Linked DNA regions of Homo sapiens: region 1 is linked to region 2. The links come from fine-mapping of genetic effects on gene expression. Tissue or cell type: whole blood. Region 2 holds a variant in brackets; the other region holds the start of a gene. All regions are shown on one strand. Distances are from middle to middle.

Region 1 (7,790 bases), 83 kb before region 2:
GTGACCCGCCCGCCTTGGCCTCCCAAAGTGCTGGGATTACAGGCATGAGCCACTGCACCTGGCCTGCCCTGCGACTTTTAATCTTTGCCCTTCCCTTTGACCTCTACTGTCTGCTCTCCCCTCCCACTAGAAATACAAGAAACCCAAGTTTATCCCTTGCTTTGTGTTCCTTCCGGATGGAGACATTCTCACTGGAGACTCAGAGGGGAACATTCTCACCTGGGGGCGGAGCCCTTCAGATTCCAAGACCCCAGGCAGGGGTGGCGCCAAAGGTATGTGGCTGGGAGGGGCATCTGGGAAGTGTAGTACTCCAGAGGTTCTGTGGGAACAGAGGAGAGGGTTTCCCATTCCCATCTTTTTTTTTTTTTTTTTTGAGATGAGGTCTTACTCTGTTGCCCAGGCTGGATTGCAGTGGCGCGATCTTGGTTCACTGCAACCTCTGCCTTCCAGGTTCAAGTGATCCTCCTTCCTCAGTCTCCCAAGTAGCTGGAAGTACAGGCACACGCCACCACGCCCAGCTAATTTTTGTATTTTTAGTAGAGATGGGGTTTTGCCATGTTGGCCAGGCTGGTCTCGAATTCCTGACCTCAGGTGATCCGCCCGCCTTGGCCTCCCAAAGTGCTGGGATTACAGGCGTGAGCCACGGCGCCCAGCCAGGTTTCCCACCTTTTTACCTTGAGAGTTGATAGTTCTCTTGGGGGCTAGTCTAGAAGCGTGTGGGCAGCACAGCAAAGGAGAAACGGCTGGAGCTTTGTGTTTGCCAGATCTCAGGTTCAGATTCCAGTTTTGCTATTAGTTGCCTTGCCTTTAGGAAGTTACCTCATTTCTGTGAGTCTCAGTTGTCCTGTTTGTAAAATGGGGAGAATAACAGATGTGTTGGCAGTATGAGGATGAGACATAGTAGTCAGTGCATGCAATGGCTGGGAGTTCTTACTGTATTGCGACAGCCAAGCTGGCCCTGTTTCTCACTCCCCTGCACCCCCAAAACATGATCTACCTGGGGCTTTGCCAACAGAGACCTATGGGATTGTGGCCCAGGCTCACGCTCATGAAGGTTCTATCTTCGCCTTGTGTCTCCGGAGGGACGGGACAGTGCTGAGTGGTGGCGGGCGGGACCGCCGGCTGGTACAGTGGGGGCCCGGGTTGGTGGCCCTCCAGGAGGCTGAGGTGAGGGCTGGGCTGGGGTCAAGGGAGTGAGGGAGAAGAGCAATAGTCAGTGGGCTCTTGACATTCTGCTACCACTCTGCAGATTCCCGAGCACTTCGGGGCCGTGCGAGCCATTGCTGAAGGGCTTGGCTCTGAGCTGCTGGTGGGAACCACGAAGAATGCATTGCTGAGGGGAGACCTGGCCCAGGGCTTCTCCCCTGTAATCCAGGTTGGGGGTTAAGGGCTCAGGGGAGGAAGGGACAAAGGGGTGTGAGAGAGGGGCAGGAGTGACAGTCATGCTGTGCTGCAGGGCCACACTGATGAGCTCTGGGGGCTCTGCACACACCCCTCCCAGAACCGCTTCCTCACCTGCGGCCACGACCGGCAGCTCTGCCTGTGGGATGGGGAGAGCCATGCACTGGCCTGGAGCATCGACCTCAAGGTAGAGCCCTGTGCCCCTGGATCCCCCATGCCACACCCACCAGGACACCTGTGGCCACCACGCCTTCCCCAGCACCTTGCCTTCTGCCTCCCAGAGGTGGCCAGTTTGTACTGGTATGGCTGCACTGGCTACTCAAATATTAATTTTTCTGTACTGACTGGTAAAAGCTGATGCTTCTAGTACCACCTGGGCACTCCCTGCCGCCCCCAGAACCCCTCAGACTTCCTCTTGATCCAGCACCTAAATGGTTAATCTCCAGCACAGCTATTGGCATCAGTTCTGTGGTTAAATATTTTGGTATCACTCCCTGTTCAGGCTCCAGTGATACCCGGGTATCCCTTCCCTCTCTTCCCATCTTCTCCTTGGGAGTAAGTGGCTTTGAAGTTAGGAGGACAAGGGGTTCACTCTGGTTCCCTCACTAGAAAGACATCATCTTGAATTCACCTTCTCCCCTCTCCCAGGAGACTGGTCTCTGTGCTGACTTCCACCCGAGTGGGGCAGTTGTGGCCGTAGGACTGAACACGGGGAGGTGAGAGAGAGCCAGGACTCCCAGGAGGGAAAGCAGGGAGGACTGGGAAGGGTTCCTGGTACTGGGGGAGTGGGCGAGAGTGACCACCTCTACCCAGGAGCCACCTGCGCCTTGGCACTCCTCTGTGCCTCTCCCTGCAGCCCCTGCCACCCGGGCTCCCCTCCTCTTCTGTGGTAACTGTTTCTCCCCCTCCCCCAACCCAGTGTCTCCTCCAAGCCTGGGAGTGGAGGAGGCAGCAGCCCAGGATAGAGAAACAGTGGGAATGGGAGGGGCATAGACAAACACAGGGAAGTGACAGGCTTCCAGCTTGCACAGTGCCTTTGTAGTCGGCCCCTGGTCTGTAGTTTCAGATTACTTTTTCAGACGACATCAGAAGCCCCTCAGCCTTTATCCACACTTAGCTCCTTCCCATTTCTCAGCATAAGAATGCAGTGGTGGCCAGGTGCGGTGGCTCACGCCTGTAATCCTAGCGCTTTGGGAGCTGAGGCGGGTGGATCACTTGAGGTCAGGAGTTCAAGACCAGCCTGGCCAACATGGTGAAACCTCGTCTCCACTAAAAATACAAAAATTAGACGGGCATGGTGGTACGCACCTGTAATTCTAGCTACTCAGGAGGCTGAGGCATGAGAATCACTTGAACCCAGGAGGTGGAGGTTGCGTTGAGATCTTGCCACTGCACTCCAGCCTGGGTGACAGAGTGAGACTCTGTCTCAAAACAACAACAACAACAACAACAAACTAAAAAAGAAGAATGCAGTTGTGACCTGTCTTCTACATCAGAGCCTTTCTGTGTGTGTCTCTGAGCTTCTCTTATTTGCCATCCCCAAGCCTACCCAGGGTGGCCTCCCTGGGGGTCTCCTTACATCCTGCCTTTTCGTCTTCCTATCTGCCTCCACTTCCCTCCCTTCCAGGTGGTTGGTTTTGGACACAGAGACCAGAGAGATCGTGTCTGATGTCATTGATGGCAATGAGCAGCTCTCAGTGGTCCGGTACAGCCCAGGTGGGAGCCACCCCAACCCTGGACTCACATGCGTCCCTGGCCCTTCCCTCTCTGAGTGACTGTATTTGCAGATGGGTTGTACCTGGCCATTGGTTCCCATGACAACGTGATCTACATCTATAGTGTTTCCAGTGATGGTGCCAAATCCAGCCGCTTTGGCCGCTGTATGGTGAGGAAGTTGGGGTGTGTGGTGGGGCATGATAACAGCTGCGAAACTCAGGGGTCTGATGCATCAAGGGGGCTCTGGGGATGGGAAATGGATGGGATACTTTAAAACTCTTGACCTTTGCTCCCAGGGTCACTCCAGCTTCATCACTCATCTTGACTGGTCCAAGGATGGGAATTTCATCATGTCCAATTCTGGGGACTATGAGATTCTTTACTGTGAGTGGCAGTGGAGCAGGACATGGGGAGAGGGTAATTGGAGTGGGTTTTGTGTAGGGGGGGCTGTTAGAGGTGTTGTTAGATAAGGAAGTGGAGATGGGGTTAAAGTGGAGTTGGAATTATATGTAGGAGAAATTTCGTGATTTGGAAACAACTAGTTTCACACCATGTCTTGTTGACTTGAGGGAGTTCAAAAATGCGCTAAGAAAAGATTGTTTGGGAAAAGTTTCTCAGGGCAAGTGTGGAGCACTTGACTTATCTAGGGAGGAGGAACTCGTGGAAGCTGTTAGAACTTCAGCCAGAGCTCAGGACAGGACGCACACAGGGTGGGTTTCACAGGGGGAGGAGGTGATGCTACTACGGTGACCAGATCACATGCCATCGCCGGGTTTCATGCCAGTCTTTCCAGTCTGGCTTTCCCTGGCATCTTCCCTACTGAGGGCAGGGTGAGAGCTGAGCTGGGCGGGCTCCCTCTCCCCAGGGGACGTGGCTGGAGGCTGCAAGCAGCTGAAGAATCGCTATGAGAGCCGAGACCGGGAATGGGCTACCTACACCTGTGTGCTGGGCTTTCACGTCTACGGTGAGCAGGGGCGTGGAAACCTGCTGGAAGGGTGGGGGACAAGGTGGAGCCCAGTTTGGGCTTGGAACGCTGGGCGTGTGTCGTTGGGTGAGAGTCCAGAAACCTGAAGATCCAGCCCAGGAGGCCCCTCGGGACCGGGAAGGCTTGCCTGGAACGCGGCAGTGGGTGGCCGCGGCTGCCGGAGCGCCTGAAATGGTGTAGCTCTGGGCCGTGGGTGGCGGTGGGTAGGAGGTCGGGCTGAGGCCGGCCGCTGTGCTAGGCGTCTGGCCGGACGGCTCCGATGGGACCGACATCAACTCCCTGTGCCGCTCCCACAACGAGCGCGTGGTGGCGGTGGCCGACGACTTCTGCAAAGTGCATCTCTTCCAGTACCCGTGCGCTCGTGCCAAGGTGAGGCCGCGGGGATCGCCGGGGTGGGACCGGTGGGCCCGAGGGCTCAGCCGCCACCGCAACTCTTCCCTCCGGCCCAGGCGCCGAGCCGCATGTACGGGGGCCACGGCAGCCACGTGACCAGCGTCCGATTCACGCACGACGACTCGCACCTCGTCTCGCTGGGCGGCAAGGACGCCAGCATCTTCCAGTGGCGAGTGCTGGGCGCTGGGGGCGCGGGGCCGGCGCCCGCCACGCCCTCTCGAACCCCCTCCCTGTCCCCCGCCTCCTCCCTCGACGTTTGATCGCTGCCTGGCGGGACCGACTGGCCCGGCGGCGTGGCCCCGCCCCGCCCTGCCCTTCCCTGGCCCAATCCCCCACGACTAGGGGCCGACTCTTTCCTGGACTGACTTCGAGACATTCCCGATCGCGCATTTTCCTGGAGGGCGCGAACGGCGCCCCTGCACACACTGTTTAGACCCGCTGGCTGAGCCGGGCAGCCCCAGCCTAGGCCTTGACTCCCGCTGCCTGCTGAGGGGCAATAAACCAGAACCAAAGTCGCCTCCCGGTGCTTTTGTGGGGCGCTGCCGGGCGCCTCCGGGGCTCTGTGGGGTGGGGACGAAGGAAAAGAGGCGTGCGGAAAGGGTAAGGGAGCGTAGACCATTTATGCAAATGACAGGCAAAGCCGCTTGCAAATAACCTGGCGAAGCGCTAAGGCGCGCGAGTCTTTGGGGCGCGAGGAGGAGCTGCAGGGCTCCAGCGAGGACAGAGTTAAGCCCGACTCCTCTCCCGCCCTCGGAAAAGGGGGTGGGGCCGAGCTGCGACGGAAATAGCCGAGCGGTTGCCCGACAGGAGCCGAACTTCTTCCGGAAGTAGCCGATCTGCGGGGTCTCGCTCTCCGACCTGAGCCGAGCAGTGGGCCTTGTTCTCCGGATCGGCCGAAGGTGTTCCGGAAGGAGGCGAACCCTGAGGCGGGCCCGGCAAGCCTTCCCTGCGGCCGGCAGAGCCCAACGACTAGTGGGACTCCGCGGGGGCGGGGGTAGCTGGAGCCTGGCTCTGGCCTGGCAGGAGCCGAGCTCGTTCCGGAAGAAGCCGAGCGGACGGGGGCCAGCCTCAGCGTCCCGGGAGTGAGGCGATAGCTGCGGCGGCGACAGCGCGGGCCGGGATGAACCGCGACGGCTGAGGCAGCGGAGGTGCCGGCTGCGCGGGCCCCAGTGAGACTCCCTCGAAGCGGCAGCCCACCGTTCGGGGCTTTGCCTCGAGCCGAGCCCTGCCCCCGCGAGCCTCCCGGACCCCTTTGTGCGGCCGGAGGCGGCGGCGGGAACGGCCATGGCGGCCAACATGTACCGGGTGGGAGGTGAGTACCGGGCGCAGGGATACGGGGCCCGGGGCGGGAGAGGTTGGGGTAGGGACCTGAGGGGCTCGGCACCGGGTGGCGCGAGGCGCAGCGTATGGGGCAGCGTGGACCGGAGCGCGGACCGGAACCGGAACCGGGAGACGAGGAGAGAGGGTGCGGGGAACCGCGACGCGGCAGGGCTCCGAGACTCCCAGAGAGAAGCTGCGGGCAGCCCCGACGGCACTTTCGGGGCTGCGTCAGGGGCTCCCCGGGGCACGGAGTGGCCTTCGGAACCGGTTCCGAAGGAGCTGACAGGGTAGGGAGGGAACGCGAGGGGCTGGGGCGACGGCTTTGCCACCGCGGGGGAGCCGCCCGGAGGTTTCCTCTTCCCAGGCGTTATTGTGCGCCTCGATTCGAAAAGGTAGGGGCCCTGCGCTAGAGCGGACAATTACTTCGCCGCGACTGGGGTGCAACTCATCGCTGAGTTGTGGGGACTGCAGGGGAACCCCTGCTTCTTGCCTGTTCCTTAAGGCTCTCTTTTGAGTAAAGGATCTAATTTTAGAACTAGGTGCGGTGGGGATGGGGGACATCCTTATTTTCTCTTAGTCTGTCCACTTTCACATCTCAGCGCCCTTTCTACCTGAATCCTTATCTCCTTTTGATCCACTCAGGCCAACTTTCTCTCCTACCCTGGTGCTCTGCGTCTCCCATCTCCTCTGATCTTCGTGGTTCTCCCCCCTCCCTTCCCTTACAGATTACGTCTATTTTGAGAACTCTTCCAGCAATCCTTACCTGGTTAGACGGATTGAGGAGCTCAACAAGGTGAGTGGAGCAGAATCCCTCTCCCTCCCTCCCGCAGTGGTCTCTTCTGAGGTTTCTAACTTCTGGTGGAAGAGAGGATCCTATACTAAGTACCCATTCATATTCGTTCATTCATTCATTGGATGTATTCAGGAAAGGCTATTGAGAGGTTAGCAGGAACTTTACTATTCTGTCTCTTGGGGGCAAAGGAAAGGGATTTGGAAGTCTATCCTTGAATGTAAGTCTTTACTCATATTTTCTTGGGCTTTTTAATTTAGGTCCCTCTGAAACTTACTGTTATTTGTCTCTTTGTGCATTTCTGTTCCCAGATGATCAATTTCCACTGCTACGTTGTTTTGTTTTTGTTTTTTTCCTCCCCTTAGACTGCAAATGGAAATGTGGAGGCAAAGGTTGTCTGTCTTTTCCGGCGCAGGGACATTTCTAGTAGCCTCAACAGCCTGGCTGATAGTAATGCCAGTGAGTATCTTCCTCCCTTTCTTTTTCTCCTACCCATGATCTGAGGCCTGGGCATGTCCCTGCAGGTATTTCCCCTGGTAGCATGCCCAAGGCAGAGGTGTGAGTTTGGGGGTGGGAAATGCCTGGCCTGAGGAGGGAGGCCTGTTTTTACATGTTGGGGTTGGAAGCAGGGTGGAGAGATTGTGATAAGGAAAGCGATAATATGGTTTGTATATGAGAGTAAGAGAGAGATGATAACATTTAGAGTATGAGGACGAGCTTTAGAGAAACAATGGTTTTCTAAAGGGGGGCAGTTTGGGGTACATTGAGACAGTAGGTGATGACTGAAGGTCAACGTGAAGAGGAAGACATTGTACTGAGAAGCCTGCGTAACAGAGAAGCAGGCTTATTTTGTAATCACAAGGTGATGAGAGTACCTGGAAGTTAGAAGATGGCTGGAAGTTTTCTTGCGCTTTTTAATTTCTCACCTCGCCCATTTCCCCGCCCGCCCCCCTCCATTTTACATCTTTCCCTTTTCATTTTGCCCTATCTTCATTCTCTTTAAGGTCTCATCTTCTTTTTTTAAAAAACATATTTTCCTTAGCTTCTTTTTCCTTTCCTGCTTTGGTTTTCTTTTTCCTTCCTTTTGTTCCACCTTTCTAAATTATTTTCCTTTTTCAGACTGCTCTGGGTGAGAAGGGGTTAAAGAGGAGCCCAGCTTACCAAGTTCCTTGGCCCTTTAGGGTT
Region 2 (10,127 bases):
CCCCCAAGATCCCCATGCCTGACTTTGATTTGCATCTGAAAGGTCCCAAGGTGAAGGGCGATGTGGATATTTCTCTGCCCAAAGTGGAAGGTGACCTCAAGGGCCCTGAAGTTGACATCAGGGGTCCCCAAGTGGACATTGATGTCCCGGATGTGGGCGTTCAAGGCCCAGACTGGCACCTAAAAATGCCCAAAGTGAAAATGCCCAAATTCAGCATGCCTGGCTTCAAAGGAGAGGGCCCAGATGTGGATGTGAACCTGCCCAAGGCTGACCTTGATGTCTCAGGACCCAAGGTGGACATTGATGTTCCAGATGTGAATATCGAAGGCCCAGAGGGAAAGTTGAAAGGTCCCAAATTCAAAATGCCTGAGATGAACATCAAAGCCCCCAAGATCTCCATGCCTGACATTGATCTTAACCTGAAAGGTCCCAAAGTGAAGGGTGACATGGATGTGTCTCTGCCAAAAGTGGAAGGTGACATGAAAGTTCCTGACGTGGATATTAAAGGCCCCAAAGTGGATATTAATGCCCCAGATGTGGATGTTCAAGGCCCAGACTGGCACCTGAAGATGCCTAAAATAAAAATGCCCAAGATCAGCATGCCTGGCTTCAAAGGAGAAGGTCCAGAAGTGGACGTGAACCTGCCCAAGGCTGACCTTGACGTCTCAGGACCCAAGGTGGACGTTGATGTTCCAGATGTGAATATTGAAGGTCCAGATGCGAAACTGAAGGGCCCTAAATTCAAGATGCCAGAGATGAACATCAAAGCTCCTAAAATATCAATGCCTGATTTGGACCTCAATCTTAAAGGCCCTAAAATGAAAGGAGAGGTGGATGTTTCACTTGCAAATGTAGAAGGTGATTTGAAAGGACCTGCTCTTGACATAAAAGGCCCAAAGATAGATGTAGATGCTCCAGATATTGACATTCATGGCCCAGATGCCAAATTAAAAGGTCCAAAACTGAAGATGCCTGACATGCATGTAAACATGCCCAAGATCTCCATGCCAGAAATTGACTTGAATTTGAAAGGCTCAAAGCTTAAGGGAGATGTTGATGTCTCTGGGCCCAAGTTGGAAGGTGACATTAAAGCTCCCAGTTTGGATATAAAGGGCCCAGAAGTGGACGTTTCCGGTCCTAAGCTTAATATCGAAGGCAAGTCAAAGAAATCTCGTTTTAAGCTTCCCAAATTTAATTTTTCGGGCTCTAAAGTTCAGACACCTGAAGTGGATGTCAAAGGTAAAAAGCCAGATATTGACATAACAGGTCCAAAAGTTGATATTAATGCTCCTGATGTCGAGGTCCAAGGAAAAGTGAAAGGATCCAAGTTTAAAATGCCTTTCCTGAGTATTTCATCTCCCAAAGTTTCTATGCCTGACGTGGAGCTAAATTTGAAAAGTCCCAAAGTCAAAGGAGACTTAGATATTGCAGGTCCCAATTTAGAAGGTGACTTTAAAGGCCCCAAAGTGGATATTAAGGCACCAGAAGTCAATCTTAATGCACCTGATGTGGATGTTCATGGTCCAGACTGGAATCTGAAAATGCCCAAGATGAAAATGCCCAAATTCAGTGTGTCTGGCTTAAAAGCAGAAGGGCCAGATGTAGCTGTGGATCTACCAAAAGGAGACATCAACATAGAGGGCCCAAGTATGAACATTGAGGGCCCAGATCTCAATGTGGAAGGTCCGGAGGGAGGCTTGAAAGGTCCCAAATTCAAGATGCCTGACATGAATATCAAAGCTCCCAAGATCTCCATGCCTGACATTGACTTAAACTTGAAAGGCCCCAAGGTGAAAGGTGATGTGGATATTTCTCTTCCCAAACTTGAAGGGGATCTGAAAGGGCCAGAGGTTGATATCAAAGGCCCTAAAGTGGACATCAATGCCCCAGATGTGGATGTTCATGGTCCAGACTGGCATCTGAAGATGCCCAAAGTGAAAATGCCCAAGTTCAGCATGCCTGGCTTCAAAGGAGAAGGCCCTGAAGTCGATGTTACCCTCCCTAAAGCTGACATTGACATTTCTGGTCCCAATGTAGACGTTGATGTTCCAGACGTGAATATTGAAGGTCCAGATGCAAAGCTGAAGGGCCCCAAGTTCAAGATGCCTGAGATGAACATCAAAGCCCCCAAGAT[C/T]TCCATGCCTGACTTTGACCTGAACTTGAAGGGACCCAAAATGAAGGGTGATGTGGTTGTGTCTTTGCCCAAAGTGGAAGGTGATCTAAAAGGCCCTGAGGTGGACATCAAGGGCCCCAAAGTGGACATTGACACTCCTGACATTAACATCGAAGGCTCAGAGGGTAAATTCAAGGGACCCAAATTTAAGATACCAGAGATGCACCTGAAGGCTCCCAAAATATCGATGCCTGACATTGATTTAAACCTGAAGGGCCCCAAAGTCAAGGGCGATGTGGATGTTTCTCTGCCCAAAATGGAAGGTGACCTCAAGGGTCCTGAAGTTGACATCAAGGGCCCCAAAGTGGACATTAATGCTCCAGATGTTGATGTTCAAGGCCCAGACTGGCACCTGAAGATGCCCAAGGTGAAAATGCCCAAGTTCAGCATGCCTGGCTTCAAAGGAGAGGGCCCAGATGTGGATGTGAACCTGCCCAAGGCTGACCTTGATGTCTCAGGACCCAAGGTGGACATTGATGTTCCAGATGTGAATATCGAAGGCCCAGAGGGAAAGTTGAAAGGTCCCAAATTCAAGATGCCTGAGATGAACATCAAAGCCCCCAAGATCTCCATGCCTGACATTGATCTTAACCTGAAAGGACCCAAAGTGAAGGGTGATATGGATGTGTCTCTGCCAAAAGTGGAAGGTGACATGCAAGTTCCTGACTTGGATATTAAAGGCCCCAAAGTGGATATTAATGCCCCAGATGTGGATGTTCGAGGCCCAGACTGGCACCTGAAGATGCCTAAGATAAAAATGCCCAAGATCAGCATGCCTGGCTTCAAAGGAGAAGGTCCAGAAGTGGATGTGAACCTGCCCAAGGCTGACCTTGACGTCTCAGGACCCAAGGTGGACGTTGATGTTCCAGATGTGAATATTGAAGGTCCAGATGCGAAACTGAAGGGCCCTAAATTCAAGATGCCAGAGATGAACATCAAAGCCCCCAAGATCTCCATGCCTGACTTTGATTTGCATCTGAAAGGCCCTAAGGTGAAAGGAGATGTGGATGTTTCTCTGCCTAAGATGGAAGGTGATCTAAAGGCCCCTGAAGTTGACATCAAGGGCCCCAAAGTGGACATTGATGCCCCAGATGTGGATGTTCATGGCCCAGACTGGCACCTGAAGATGCCCAAGGTGAAAATGCCCAAATTCAGCATGCCAGGATTTAAAGGAGAGGGCCCAGAAGTGGATGTTAATTTGCCCAAAGCTGACATTGATGTCTCAGGACCCAAAGTGGACATTGACACTCCTGATATTGATATTCATGGTCCAGAAGGGAAACTGAAGGGCCCCAAATTTAAAATGCCTGACCTGCACCTCAAGGCACCGAAGATCTCTATGCCTGAAGTTGACCTGAATCTGAAAGGTCCAAAGATGAAGGGCGACGTGGACGTTTCTCTGCCCAAAGTGGAAGGCGACCTCAAGGGCCCTGAAGTTGACATCAAGGGCCCCAAAGTGGACATTGATGTCCCAGATGTGGACGTTCAAGGCCCAGACTGGCACTTAAAAATGCCCAAAGTGAAAATGCCCAAGTTCAGCATGCCTGGCTTCAAAGGAGAGGGCCCAGATGTGGATGTGAACCTGCCCAAGGCTGACCTTGACGTCTCAGGACCCAAGGTGGACATTGATGTTCCTGATGTGAATATCGAAGGTCCAGATGCGAAACTAAAGGGCCCTAAATTCAAGATGCCTGAGATGAACATCAAAGCCCCCAAGATCTCCATGCCTGACTTTGATTTGCATCTGAAAGGTCCCAAGGTGAAGGGTGATGTGGATGTTTCCCTTCCTAAAGTGGAAGGTGACCTCAAGGGCCCAGAAGTTGACATCAAGGGCCCCAAAGTGGACATCGATGCCCCTGATGTAGATGTTCATGGCCCAGACTGGCACCTGAAGATGCCCAAGGTGAAAATGCCCAAATTCAGCATGCCAGGATTCAAAGGAGAGGGCCCAGATGTGGATGTTACCCTTCCTAAGGCTGACATTGAGATTTCTGGCCCCAAAGTGGACATTGATGCCCCTGATGTCAGTATCGAAGGTCCAGATGCAAAACTCAAGGGTCCAAAGTTCAAGATGCCAGAGATGAACATCAAGGCCCCCAAAATCTCCATGCCTGACATTGACTTTAACTTGAAGGGTCCCAAAGTGAAAGGTGATGTGGATGTCTCTCTGCCCAAAGTGGAAGGTGATCTCAAGGGCCCTGAAATTGACATAAAAGGCCCCAGTTTGGACATTGACACACCTGATGTCAATATTGAAGGTCCGGAAGGAAAATTGAAGGGGCCCAAATTTAAGATGCCTGAGATGAACATCAAAGCTCCCAAAATCTCTATGCCTGACTTTGATTTGCACCTGAAAGGTCCCAAGGTGAAGGGTGATGTGGATGTTTCACTACCTAAGGTGGAAAGTGATCTGAAAGGGCCAGAGGTAGACATTGAAGGTCCTGAAGGGAAGCTCAAAGGTCCCAAGTTTAAGATGCCTGATGTACATTTCAAAAGCCCACAAATCTCCATGAGTGACATTGATTTGAATTTGAAAGGACCTAAGATAAAAGGAGATATGGACATTTCCGTTCCTAAACTGGAGGGAGATCTGAAAGGTCCCAAAGTGGATGTCAAAGGCCCTAAAGTGGGCATTGACACTCCTGATATTGACATTCATGGTCCAGAAGGGAAACTGAAGGGCCCCAAATTTAAAATGCCTGACTTACACCTCAAGGCACCGAAGATCTCTATGCCTGAAGTTGACCTGAATCTGAAAGGTCCAAAGGTGAAGGGCGACATGGACATTTCTCTGCCCAAAGTGGAAGGCGACCTCAAGGGCCCCGAAGTTGACATCAGGGACCCCAAAGTGGACATTGATGTCCCAGATGTGGACGTTCAAGGCCCAGACTGGCACCTAAAAATGCCCAAAGTGAAAATGCCCAAGTTCAGCATGCCTGGCTTCAAAGGAGAGGGCCCAGATGTGGATGTGAACCTGCCCAAGGCTGACATTGATGTCTCAGGACCCAAAGTGGACGTTGATGTTCCTGATGTGAATATCGAAGGTCCAGATGCGAAACTAAAGGGCCCCAAGTTCAAGATGCCTGAGATGAGCATCAAAGCCCCCAAGATCTCCATGCCTGATATTGACTTAAACCTGAAAGGACCCAAAGTGAAGGGCGATGTGGATGTTACCCTTCCTAAAGTGGAAGGTGACCTCAAGGGCCCAGAAGCTGACATCAAGGGCCCAAAAGTGGACATCAACACCCCTGATGTGGATGTTCATGGCCCAGACTGGCACCTGAAGATGCCCAAGGTGAAAATGCCCAAATTCAGCATGCCTGGCTTCAAAGGAGAAGGTCCAGATGTGGATGTGAGCCTGCCCAAGGCCGACATCGATGTCTCGGGACCCAAGGTGGACGTTGATATTCCAGATGTGAATATCGAAGGTCCAGACGCAAAACTGAAGGGCCCCAAGTTCAAGATGCCTGAAATAAATATCAAAGCTCCCAAGATCTCCATACCTGATGTTGACCTGGATTTGAAAGGACCCAAAGTAAAAGGAGATTTTGATGTGTCTGTCCCTAAGGTTGAAGGGACTTTGAAAGGCCCAGAAGTAGATCTTAAAGGTCCACGTCTGGATTTCGAAGGCCCTGATGCCAAACTCAGTGGCCCATCTTTGAAGATGCCATCGCTGGAGATATCTGCTCCTAAAGTAACTGCTCCTGATGTTGATTTGCATCTCAAGGCACCAAAAATTGGATTTTCAGGTCCGAAGTTAGAAGGTGGTGAAGTGGACCTCAAGGGACCCAAAGTTGAAGCTCCAAGCTTAGATGTACACATGGACAGCCCAGATATTAACATCGAAGGGCCAGATGTTAAAATCCCCAAATTTAAGAAACCCAAGTTTGGATTTGGGGCAAAAAGCCCCAAAGCTGACATCAAGTCACCTTCACTGGATGTCACTGTTCCTGAGGCAGAGCTGAACCTTGAGACTCCTGAAATTAGTGTTGGTGGCAAGGGCAAGAAAAGTAAGTTTAAAATGCCTAAAATTCATATGAGTGGTCCTAAGATTAAGGCCAAAAAACAGGGATTTGACCTGAATGTTCCTGGGGGTGAAATTGATGCCAGCCTCAAGGCTCCGGATGTAGATGTCAACATCGCAGGGCCGGATGCTGCACTCAAAGTCGACGTGAAATCGCCCAAAACCAAGAAAACGATGTTTGGAAAAATGTACTTCCCAGATGTAGAGTTTGACATTAAATCACCTAAATTTAAAGCTGAGGCCCCTCTCCCTAGCCCCAAACTGGAGGGTGAACTCCAGGCACCTGATCTGGAACTTTCTTTGCCAGCGATTCACGTCGAAGGTCTTGACATCAAGGCGAAGGCTCCCAAGGTCAAGATGCCAGATGTGGACATCTCAGTGCCAAAAATAGAGGGTGACCTGAAAGGCCCCAAAGTGCAGGCAAACTTGGGTGCACCTGACATCAACATCGAAGGCCTAGATGCTAAAGTCAAAACACCGTCCTTCGGCATTTCTGCCCCTCAAGTCTCCATCCCTGATGTGAATGTAAACTTGAAAGGACCAAAGATAAAGGGTGATGTCCCCAGCGTGGGACTGGAAGGACCAGATGTAGATCTGCAAGGTCCAGAAGCAAAAATTAAGTTCCCCAAGTTTTCCATGCCCAAGATCGGCATCCCAGGTGTGAAAATGGAGGGTGGGGGAGCCGAGGTCCATGCCCAGCTACCCTCTCTTGAAGGAGACTTGAGAGGACCAGATGTTAAGCTCGAAGGGCCCGATGTTTCTCTAAAGGGGCCAGGAGTAGACTTGCCTTCAGTGAACCTCTCTATGCCAAAAGTCTCTGGGCCTGACCTTGATCTGAACTTGAAAGGACCAAGTTTGAAGGGAGACCTGGATGCATCTGTTCCCAGCATGAAGGTGCATGCTCCAGGGCTCAACCTCAGTGGTGTCGGTGGCAAAATGCAGGTGGGAGGAGACGGTGTGAAAGTGCCAGGGATCGATGCCACAACAAAGCTTAACGTTGGGGCACCAGATGTGACACTGAGGGGACCAAGCCTGCAGGGAGATCTGGCTGTCTCTGGTGACATCAAATGCCCTAAAGTATCCGTAGGAGCTCCTGATCTAAGCTTGGAGGCATCCGAAGGCAGCATTAAACTTCCCAAAATGAAGCTGCCCCAATTTGGCATCTCTACTCCGGGGTCCGACTTGCACGTCAATGCCAAGGGGCCACAGGTTTCTGGCGAACTGAAGGGGCCAGGTGTGGATGTGAACCTGAAAGGGCCTCGGATTTCAGCACCGAATGTGGACTTTAACTTGGAAGGACCAAAAGTGAAAGGGAGCCTTGGGGCCACTGGTGAGATCAAAGGCCCCACTGTCGGAGGAGGTCTTCCAGGCATTGGTGTTCAAGGCCTAGAAGGAAACCTCCAGATGCCTGGAATTAAGTCCTCTGGATGTGATGTGAACCTGCCAGGCGTGAATGTGAAACTCCCAACTGGGCAGATTTCTGGGCCTGAAATCAAAGGTGGTCTGAAAGGTTCAGAAGTAGGTTTCCATGGGGCTGCTCCTGATATCAGTGTGAAGGGGCCTGCCTTTAATATGGCATCTCCTGAGTCAGATTTTGGCATCAACTTGAAGGGCCCAAAAATCAAAGGAGGTGCGGATGTTTCAGGGGGTGTCAGTGCCCCAGACATCAGCCTTGGTGAAGGGCATTTGAGTGTTAAAGGTTCCGGGGGTGAGTGGAAGGGACCCCAAGTCTCCTCTGCTCTCAACTTGGACACATCTAAGTTTGCTGGGGGCCTTCATTTCTCAGGACCAAAGGTGGAAGGAGGTGTGAAAGGAGGTCAGATTGGACTCCAGGCTCCTGGGCTGAGTGTGTCTGGGCCTCAAGGTCACTTGGAAAGTGGATCTGGAAAAGTAACATTCCCTAAAATGAAGATCCCCAAATTTACCTTCTCTGGCCGTGAGCTGGTTGGCAGAGAAATGGGGGTGGATGTTCACTTCCCTAAAGCAGAGGCCAGCATCCAAGCTGGTGCTGGAGACGGCGAGTGGGAAGAGTCTGAAGTCAAACTGAAAAAGTCCAAGATCAAAATGCCCAAGTTTAATTTTTCCAAACCTAAAGGGAAAGGTGGTGTCACTGGCTCACCAGAAGCATCAATTTCTGGGTCCAAAGGTGACCTGAAAAGTTCAAAGGCCAGCCTGGGCTCTCTGGAAGGAGAGGCAGAGGCCGAAGCCTCTTCACCGAAAGGCAAATTCTCCTTATTTAAAAGTAAGAAGCCACGGCACCGCTCAAATTCATTCAGTGATGAAAGAGAGTTCTCTGGACCTTCCACCCCGACGGGGACGCTGGAGTTTGAAGGTGGGGAAGTGTCTCTGGAAGGTGGGAAAGTTAAAGGGAAACACGGGAAGCTGAAATTCGGTACCTTTGGTGGATTGGGGTCAAAGAGCAAAGGTCATTATGAGGTGACTGGGAGCGATGATGAGACAGGCAAGTTACAGGGGAGTGGGGTGTCCCTGGCCTCTAAGAAGTCCCGACTGTCCTCCTCTTCTAGCAATGACAGTGGGAATAAGGTTGGCATCCAGCTTCCCGAGGTGGAGCTGTCAGTTTCCACAAAGAAAGAGTAGCAGGCCTTTGTATGTGTGTACATATATATATATATAACAAAACATCAGCCTTGGGTGGTGTGTTCCTATATAAACTCCAAAGGGAAACACACCGACTGCCTCAGCAATCATGCAAAGACCTTGCCTGGCCCGGTGGCAAGCGCTGAAAAACCGACCGCCTGTAGGCTCCTGGAACTATACAGATAGGTAAAGAGTTCCAAGTTCGTCCAGCCCATGTGCAAAGTCAACAGTATTTGCCTTAAGATTTCATATATATATATTTTTTTGCATTGACTGCTGAGAGCTCCTGTTTACTAAGCAAGCTTTTGTGTTTATTATCCTCATTTTTACTGAACATTGTTAGTTTTGGGGTAATGGAAACCCACTTTTTCATTGTAATGACTTTGGGGGCTTTTGTTAGTAAGGGTGGGTGGGGTGATGGGTTGCAGACGGAGGTCAGGTCTTCCTCTTTCCTGAGACTGGATCTGTTCAAACAGCAAACGCCCACAGATGGCCCAGAGGTGGTGGTAGTCAGGGTGTGTGGGTGTTTTTAGGGTTCTTTAGTGTTGTTTCTTTCACCCAGGGGTGGTGGTCCCAGCCAGTTTGGTGCTGACGGTGAGAGGAAATTAGAATCTGTTTGCAAATTGTCCAACCCACCCCCTCAACATGAGGGGCTTCCATTTTCTGTGTTTTGTAAGGGAACTGTTTCCTTCATGCCGCCATGTTCCTGATATTAGTTCTGATTTCTTTTTAACAAATGTTATCATGATTAAGAAAATTTCCAGCACTTTAATGGCCAATTAACTGAGAATGTAAGAAAATTGATGCTGTACAAGGCAAATAAAGCTGTTTATTAACCTTGATGTCTTGTGCCTTTGCATTCTGTGTTGCGGGGGCGTGAAACCTGGGGAAGCTGCACAGCCAGCTGTGAGTGTTCAGACCGGATCCATCTGGTGGCATTGCTAGTTTCATCAGTGACTTTAAGACAGTGACCTTCGGGAGGTAGTGGGAGAAAATCTTTGCTTCTTGATTCTCATGGTGAGGCTGGTTGTGCCATTGCTGAGAAATCAAGAAGAGGCTTGGCCTCGGGACCCACTCACCTACTTTGCATCCTCACATATGAATATACAATTCAGAATTGGTTCTAAATGGGTTACAGATGTGAACAGTTAAAAGGCCTCCTGGAATTACCGAAAGGGCTCTGCTTGTGAATCACCGCTCTGCCATTTATTCCTGACATGGCTGCAGGTTTGCTGAGTAACCGCTGTTGCCCAGGCTGGAGTGCAGTGGCACAATCTTGGCTCACTGCAACCTCCTCCTCCTGGGTTCAAGCGATTTTCCTGCCTCAGCCTC

The links. PIP is the estimated chance that this variant, and not a neighbour inherited with it, causes the effect. A credible set is the group of variants that fine-mapping cannot tell apart.
Region 1: MTA2 starts here. The variant in region 2 is the best candidate, but not a certain one, in a credible set for the expression of MTA2 in whole blood (TOPMed, PIP 0.77).

What each region holds. Positions count from the first base shown.
Region 1 is chr11:62,599,440-62,607,229 of GRCh38, reverse strand. MTA2 (metastasis associated 1 family member 2) reads left to right here and starts at 5,365. Exons shown (of 18, transcript NM_004739.4): 1 at 5,365-5,807; 2 at 6,541-6,608; 3 at 6,971-7,064. The coding sequence starts at 5,780. EML3 (EMAP like 3) reads left to right here. Exons shown (of 22, transcript NM_153265.3): 12 at 131-272; 13 at 1,016-1,167; 14 at 1,250-1,375; 15 at 1,457-1,588; 16 at 2,050-2,117; 17 at 3,029-3,117; 18 at 3,189-3,286; 19 at 3,414-3,501; 20 at 3,983-4,081; 21 at 4,341-4,471; 22 at 4,552-5,012. The coding sequence ends at 4,755. RefSeq lists enhancers at 3,652-4,361, 4,870-4,919, 6,300-6,349, 5,784-6,494 and silencers at 5,670-5,719, 5,790-5,889, 5,970-6,049.
Region 2 is chr11:62,515,412-62,525,538 of GRCh38, reverse strand. AHNAK (AHNAK nucleoprotein) reads left to right here. Exons shown (of 5, transcript NM_001620.3): 5 at 1-9,637. The coding sequence ends at 8,795. Among named protein-coding and RNA genes, the nearest start is that of AHNAK, 26 kb to the left of the region's middle. The variant C/T (reference allele first, on the strand shown) is at 2,135.